2 linked regions of the Homo sapiens genome follow. The protein of the gene in region 2 purifies or fractionates together with the protein of the main gene of each other region. This does not show direct contact. Each region holds a gene or a part of one and is shown on either strand. Other genes may lie near its edges.

Region 1 (3,652 bases), on a different chromosome or scaffold from region 2:
ATTTTGCAAGATAAGAAAAGATGTAAAATAGTATGTAAACTAGTCTGGAAAGCCTAAGAGTACAGACATAGCAGTTATTTGCCAATGTCTGAAACTAACTAAAAATATGTTGGTTTTGAAAGACAGCCCAACCCCCTCATCTTTTGGTGTTGAATAGAGCAGGCAGTCAGAGAAGGACAGTGCTGCCTTGGTGGCACTCACCTTCAGCAGCAGATGCTCTTAGCACATCTGGTCTAAATGTTTGAGCTAAATGAGCTGTTCAGGGAGGCTCAAGTGGGAGAAATGTTAATACCATTTTTGTAATGATATTTTTATAGATCTTTGTATATTGAGGCTCCCAATTGTTTCAGACTGGCATTTACTGGTAAATTAATTTCAGATGTGCAAAATAAATTTTAGCTACGTTAAGATCATCTAAACATGCAGCATTTTGAGTTCTGAAAAGCTACAAGTGAGACATAATATTATTGTGAAATATTTAAAGACGTAGTTTTGTATGCTTTCAAAAAAGTGATATTAAATCACTTGTTAAAATAATTGCAGTCTAATTGCCTTAAAACTCCAGTGAGATGGTTTTACTTTCCCTGTGTAATTATAAGATAAAAGTATAATGGGTTGACGATAATTATTTGCACATCATTAAAATTGATTTGTGTTTAAATTCATTTTGTATACATTAATAATTTCCATTTCCTCACTGTACATTTTGCAATGCCATTCTTATTTTGATAGAGCCAACTTAACAAACACAGCTCTTTTTATAAACATTGTCTGCACAGTTAACAGAATAATGTTGGAAATGTAAATGCTTATTTCTAAAGATATTTTAACTTGGAAACTCTTTTCTTACAGTCAGAACAGAAGTGGAAACAACTTGCTGAACTTGCCATTAGTAAATGTCAGTTTGGCCTAGCCCAGGAGTGCCTGCATCATGCACAGGATTATGGGGGCCTGCTGCTTTTGGCCACTGCCTCTGGAAATGCTAATATGGTGAACAAGCTAGCAGAGGGTGCGGAGAGAGATGGCAAAAATAATGTGGCATTCATGAGCTACTTTTTACAGGGCAAGTGAGTATTAATTTAAAAGATTAATTAATTCTACACTGAGGATGGTTTTTGGAGAGGGAAGTGAAGAATGAACCCTGGAGAGAACTGATGAATGGCCAAATGGTGTTGAATAGACGGGGCAGTCAGAACAGGACAGTGCTGCCTTGGTGGCACTCACCTTCAGCAAGGGATGCCCTTAGCACATCTATCTAAATGTTTGAGCTAAATGAGCTGTTCAGGGAGGCTCAAGTGGGAGAAATGTTAAACACCTTCTTCAACAGCCCTGCCAGTTAATGGTGGAAGCATTTTATTTTATGATTGCAGGAGGCTATTGAGCTGCTCTAGTAGGTACCTGAAGGGCAGGTGATTTTACCCAAATTGGATAACTTTGATCCATTTATGGCAAGAACAAAAGGGGATAAGTATGCCACTTACTTGTAGATTTGAGCCCACTATAAAGCATAAAGATGTCTCATATTTTTAAGTCTAACCGAGTTAGCATAAACCAAATCATTTGGACATTAGTTGGCAGTATTATGAAATAAAACACAAAAGTATTCTTTCCTTTTTTTTTTTTTTTTTTTGAGATGGAATCTCACTCTGTTGCCCAGGCTGGAGTGCAGTGGCATGATCTCGGCTAATTGCAGCCTCTGTCTCCCTCGTTCAAGCCCTTCTCCTGCCTTAGCCTCCCAAGTAGCTGGGATTACAGGCATGCGCCACCACACCCGGCTTGTGTTTTTAATAGAGATGGGGTCTCACCATGTTGGCCAGGCTGGTCTCAAACTCCTGACCTCAAATGATCCGCCTGCCTCGTCCTCCCAAAGTGCTGGGATTATAGGTGTGAGCCACCACGCCCAGCCCGAAAGTATTCTTTAACCTTCTCCTACATACTGATTTTTTTTTTTTTTTACAATCCCATACTTCGCCATATAACTTTGAACGTGCACCCCATTGTATGTATGTGAATGTATTTATGAATTTATATACCTGTAAGAATAGACCCTATTCCTTATCCATAATTCAAAAATCCAAAAATATTCTGAAAACAGTTATAACTGTTTTGATGGCAAGACCTGAGCTGAACTGCTTTAGTATTTTTAGTTGCTTTTATACCAACTTGGTACATTTTTATTGCATTTAACATTCCTATGTAAGTTATTGCAGTATTAATGTTTGTGGCTTTTTCATGCTGAGGATGTAAGGTAATACATAGTATACATACTGTATCACCTTTCGAAAATCCAAAAAATCCTGAATTCTGAAACATATTGTCCACATCATAAAACTTGCACAGAAAAAAAATGAAATTAAAATAGAAGAAAAAATAAGACACCATGGTATTCTGCTGGGCACCACTGGCTTGTCTGGCCCTTCCCATGTTGGAGACACTGCCCTAGATATTTGTCTTGTGGAACTGAATTTCTGCTGGCATATATCCTTATGCCTTTAAAATTTGCTAATCTAACCTGCCTTAACTCCTCTTGAAAAGCCCCTTTAGGTTCTTAGGAATTATAATAATTAAGTTAAGTAGATTCAAAGTAGTCAGGAAAGCTGTCTTATCCCTCATACCCTTGCAGTGTGTTGATTAACAACCATTAAAAGACAAGTGACAGAAATGAGATATATGTGTGAAGATTGGGGAGATTTTTGGCTTTGTAACACTAAATTTACTTTGTGTTAAGTACCCATTATTATAGTGTTTATTCTTGGTAACAGTACCTCTCCTTTTTAATGTTTAGGGTTGATGCCTGCCTAGAGCTCTTAATTAGAACTGGACGGCTGCCAGAAGCTGCCTTCTTGGCCCGAACTTACTTACCCAGTCAGGTTTCAAGGTACAGACTTTTAATTTTAGGAAGAAATGTTTCCAATAAAAAGAGAGCACATTTACTTAGTCTCTCTTTGGTTCCATGATGTCTATAATAGGGTAGTGAAACTCTGGAGAGAGAATCTCTCAAAAGTCAATCAGAAAGCAGCAGAATCCCTTGCTGACCCAACAGAGTATGAAAACCTGTTCCCTGGATTAAAAGAAGCCTTTGTTGTTGAAGAATGGGTGAAGGAAACACATGCTGATCTGTGGCCAGCCAAACAATACCCACTTGTCACGGTGAGTGGCCAGGATGTCAAGCTTCATTTATTGTAACTACAGGGTGGAAGTACATTCAGGACTTCAGATTTTGAACTGCTGTCTTCTTTTAAAATTAAGAGCTGATATCTGGGATTTAGGCCAAGTTCATAGGTAAATTATGATTTCAGAATATCTCATTTCATCATTGCTTTATTCTCTGATAGCCAAATGAAGAGAGAAATGTCATGGAAGAGGGAAAAGACTTTCAGCCCTCAAGATCTACAGCTCAACAGGTCAGTAGAGCACTTCATGTGATAAATTTGGCTGAGATGGTTCACTTTTTTTTTTTTTCTTTTGAGACAGAGTTTCGCTCCATTGCCCTGGCTGGAGTGCAGTGGCGCGATCTAGGCTCACTGCAAGCTCTGTCTCCCGGGTTCACGCCATTCTCCTGCCTCAGCCTCCCGAGTAGCTGGGGTAATTACAGGCGCCCATCACCGGTCCGGCTAATTTTTTTGTATTTTTATTAGAGACAGGGTTTCAC
Region 2 (3,652 bases):
ATAGCTCATTGCAGCCTTGAACATCTTAGGATCAAGCAATCCTCCCGCTTCAGCCTCCTGAGCAGCTGGGACTATAGGTGTGAGCCACCATATGGGGCTACTTAAAAAAAAAAAAATTTTAAGAGATGGAATCTTGCCATGTTGGCCAGGCTGTTGTCAAACTCCTGGCTCAAGCAATCATCCTGCTTCAGCCTCCCGAGTAGCTTGGACTAAAGCTGCATGCCACCTCACCCAGAATACTTTTGTATGTCAAATTTCTTTGTCCTTCCTCCTTAGCTCTCACTTTTCTATCCAGCTAACTTCTATTTACCCACAGAACCCACTGGAGGACCATTAAATGGCAGAAGGCAGATTTGGTGTCAATCAGTCCCCAGAAGGATTCCCTTTGCTTCCCCTGTATTCCTATGGTACCCTGGGGATACCACTATCATAGAACTGGTCTGTTTCCTCTGCCAGAATAACCCAGGAGGCAGGAATCATAGCTGTCACTTTTGAATCCCTAGTACACAGTACCTGGCACATTTGGTAACCAGTAATACAAACAAACTCACACTTCTCCCAATGCCTGCTAAGTACTTATTACTTGTAATATGTCTGCTCCTAGTCTCCGTTTTATATTTGTATTCTCTTTGCTTCTAAAGACTGTTGTAGATAGTGCATGCAGTGGCTCAATATCCACACTGATTCCTCACTGCACCTAATATGTAATTAGTATATGCCAAATACATATTTTAGATCACTATTTCTCAAACTTCAGTATACATTAAAAGTACCTGGAAAGTTTGTTAAAATGGATTCCTGGGCCCCACTCCCACAGATTCTAATTCAATACGTCTGAGGTAGGTCCCAAAATCTGTATTTCTAACGAACTCCCAGTTGATGCTGACAAGTTTGCCTGTCTGCCAACCACATTTTGAATAGCACAGTTTTAGACAGAATTCATTTATGTGAGTTCAACTGGAAATGGTGATTTTATTTATTCTCTTGATCAGATTTGATGCCCAACTAGTTCTAGATTTACCAACTGAGCAAACTGAAGAATTCCTAATTTTTTTTGTATTCAGTAGTAATAGTGTGGCTTAACAGCATAGCTAGGGTAAACATTTTTATTTGTTTATTTATTTTGCAAAGACAAAGTCTCACTACATTGCCCAGGATAGTCTTGAACTTCTGGTCTCAGTAATCCTCCCACCTCAGCCTCCCAAAGTGCTAGGATTACAGTTGTGTACCACTGTGCCCAGCTTGGTAAGCATTTTTAAAGATGCTACAAAGTAGGAATAAAGCAATCAATGACCACGCAAACAACTAGAAGTTCACCTAAAAGTTGCCTGATTGGTAAAAGTAACTTTAAATATTAACAAACACATGCATGTATGTATCTTCTCTCTCTAATATACCAAACCTTAAACAAATTTCCCTTTCACAAAAACATTCAAAATTCTGAAATCACCAATGTAATAACTGATGCAGAGAAGAATCATCAATAGATGTTAAAACCACTGGATGAAAGCTGTTATGGGTGCAGGATAACCAGATGGCCTCAAAATATTTTCTTGGATCACTAGTTAATTACAAAGGTAAAAGGAACTTTCATGGCAGACAGATCTGCAGGACACACCTCCTTAACCAAGTGATCACACTCAACCTCACCAATAAAGGAGAAACTAACATCATGTGCCCCCTGCCGTGATACAGTGGAATGTACACAAAATCACCTATGTAGTATTCTTAATAAAAATGTTTAATCTGAATATATCATGAGACAATCAGACAAATTTAAATTGTGGGAAACTCTGTGAGAAAATGGCCTGGACTCTTAAAAATGTCAGTATCATGAAATGAACAACAACAAAAAAGGTAATGGGAGGATTGTGTATTAAAAGAGGGACTAAAGAGACTTGAGAAACAAATGCTATGTGCCCCCCCCCAAAAAAAAAAATTCCACATCGCTCTAAATAATATTTTGGAAACAATTCATTATGTATGAAGCTATCTGGTGTGTCAGAATAAAACAAATTCTTCAGGTGTAAAAATGGTATTATAATTATGTAGTTATTGCTCTTTGGACATATATGCTGCAGTATTCAGGGGTGAGACATGGCACCTGCAACTTATATTGAAATGGCTCAGAAATATACACAACAAACTAAATGTTCATAACTAGTGAATCTAAGAGAAGGTTGTATGGATGACTAGTTGAACTAGTCATTCAACTTTTCCATAGGTTTGAAATTTTCCAAAGTATAAAGGTGGGAGAAAGACTGAAAGTCTGAAAGTGTAATTGACTCTAAAAGAGAATCAATTAACTACATCCTTTTAAACTTTCATCCATCATTCTATAACATTCCAATCCTGATGGATTAAAGAATTCTGCAGTAGCATTGGGAACTATGGACCCCCTTCATTTATCTTACCTCGTTTACCAAGCGATGATCCAGCAAACAAACAGCCAGTGGAGGTCTCAGCAATAATTCTATGCAAGAAAAAAAGTTATTACTACCTTTGCTATAAATGTTCCAAATTTATGCAAATACAACAAAAGAGAACAATGACTATTAAATAGGCAGAACTAAATCTGGGCAACAAATTGCAAAAGTAAAAATTCTTCATATAGAGTGGTATGATTAACATTGTCTATCTTAATCAGACCAGTAGTATCCTTTACCACTTGACCAGGAGAAGTCACACCAGATTCTAATTCACAGGTTAAGAAATGTCTACCATGCCCCCCAACAAGTTAACATGTCATTAGCACTAAGTGGTACCATTTCACAGGCACACAGTACTATAAAGTGTTTCAGAATTATCTTAAATAAAAAGGTCGTTATGCAGAGACTTTGGTATTGTTCTACGGTTTTTAGATAGTGTTATCATAAGTAGAGCAAGCGTTTACTTTAAACCTTTTAATGGAAATTCTGAATGAGAGGATTTGGAACTTAAATATCCAAAAATGGTACTTTTATACTTCAAAAACATCAGTTAAAGAATTTGTACTAATACTTAAATCTATAACTCCTAACTGAATTAACATAATAGTTCTAGTCTGGTTTTTTTTGAGATGGAGTCTCGCTTTGTCGCCAGGCTGGAGTGCAGTGGTGTGATCTCAGCTCACTGCAACATCCGCCTCCCAGGTTCAAGTGATTCTCCTGCCTCAGCCTCCCAAGTAGCTGGGACTACAGGTGTGCACCACCACGCCCAGCTAATTTTTGTATTTTTAGTAGAGACAGGGTTTCACCATGTTGGCCAGGATGATCTTGATCTCTTGACCTTGTGATCTGCCCGCCTCAGCCTCCCAAAGTGCTGGGATTACAGGTGTAAGCCACCGCGCCTGGCCTCTAGTCTGGTTTTAAAAAGCTCTTTGCTATATTTATTTGTGAACTGATTTCACATTTGACGTATTTTATGCAACTGGAAATATTCTCATAGGACTAGCTTTAAAGCCTAACTTCTGATTAAACGTTTAAGTTCACTATATAAGGGAAAGGGATCTTACAAGGTAACAAAAGGCAAGCCATCCTCAGAAAAAATTCAGAATAATTGTCTTAATTTATCATACTGGTGTTTTAGGTAGGAATGTCCTTAAAAATATAAACTGAGGCTGGGCACAGTGGCTCATGCCTGTAATCCCAGCACTTTGGGAGGCCAAGGCAGG

The links.
Region 1: the proteins of RTCA (region 2) and COPB2 purify together in Homo sapiens (co-immunoprecipitation; one large-scale study listed by IntAct). This does not show direct contact.

What each region holds. Positions count from the first base shown.
Region 1 is NC_000003.12:139,358,496-139,362,147, reverse strand, and holds part of COPB2 (coatomer subunit beta'), read left to right. Parts: intron 1-852; coding exon 853-1,067; intron 1,068-2,785; coding exon 2,786-2,878; intron 2,879-2,969; coding exon 2,970-3,150; intron 3,151-3,335; coding exon 3,336-3,404; intron 3,405-3,652. UniProt on the Homo sapiens protein: The coatomer is a cytosolic protein complex that binds to dilysine motifs and reversibly associates with Golgi non-clathrin-coated vesicles, which further mediate biosynthetic protein transport from the ER, via the Golgi up to the trans Golgi network.
Region 2 is NC_000001.11:100,276,079-100,279,730, reverse strand, and holds part of RTCA (RNA 3'-terminal phosphate cyclase), read right to left. Parts: intron 2,474-3,652; coding exon 2,415-2,473; intron 1-2,414.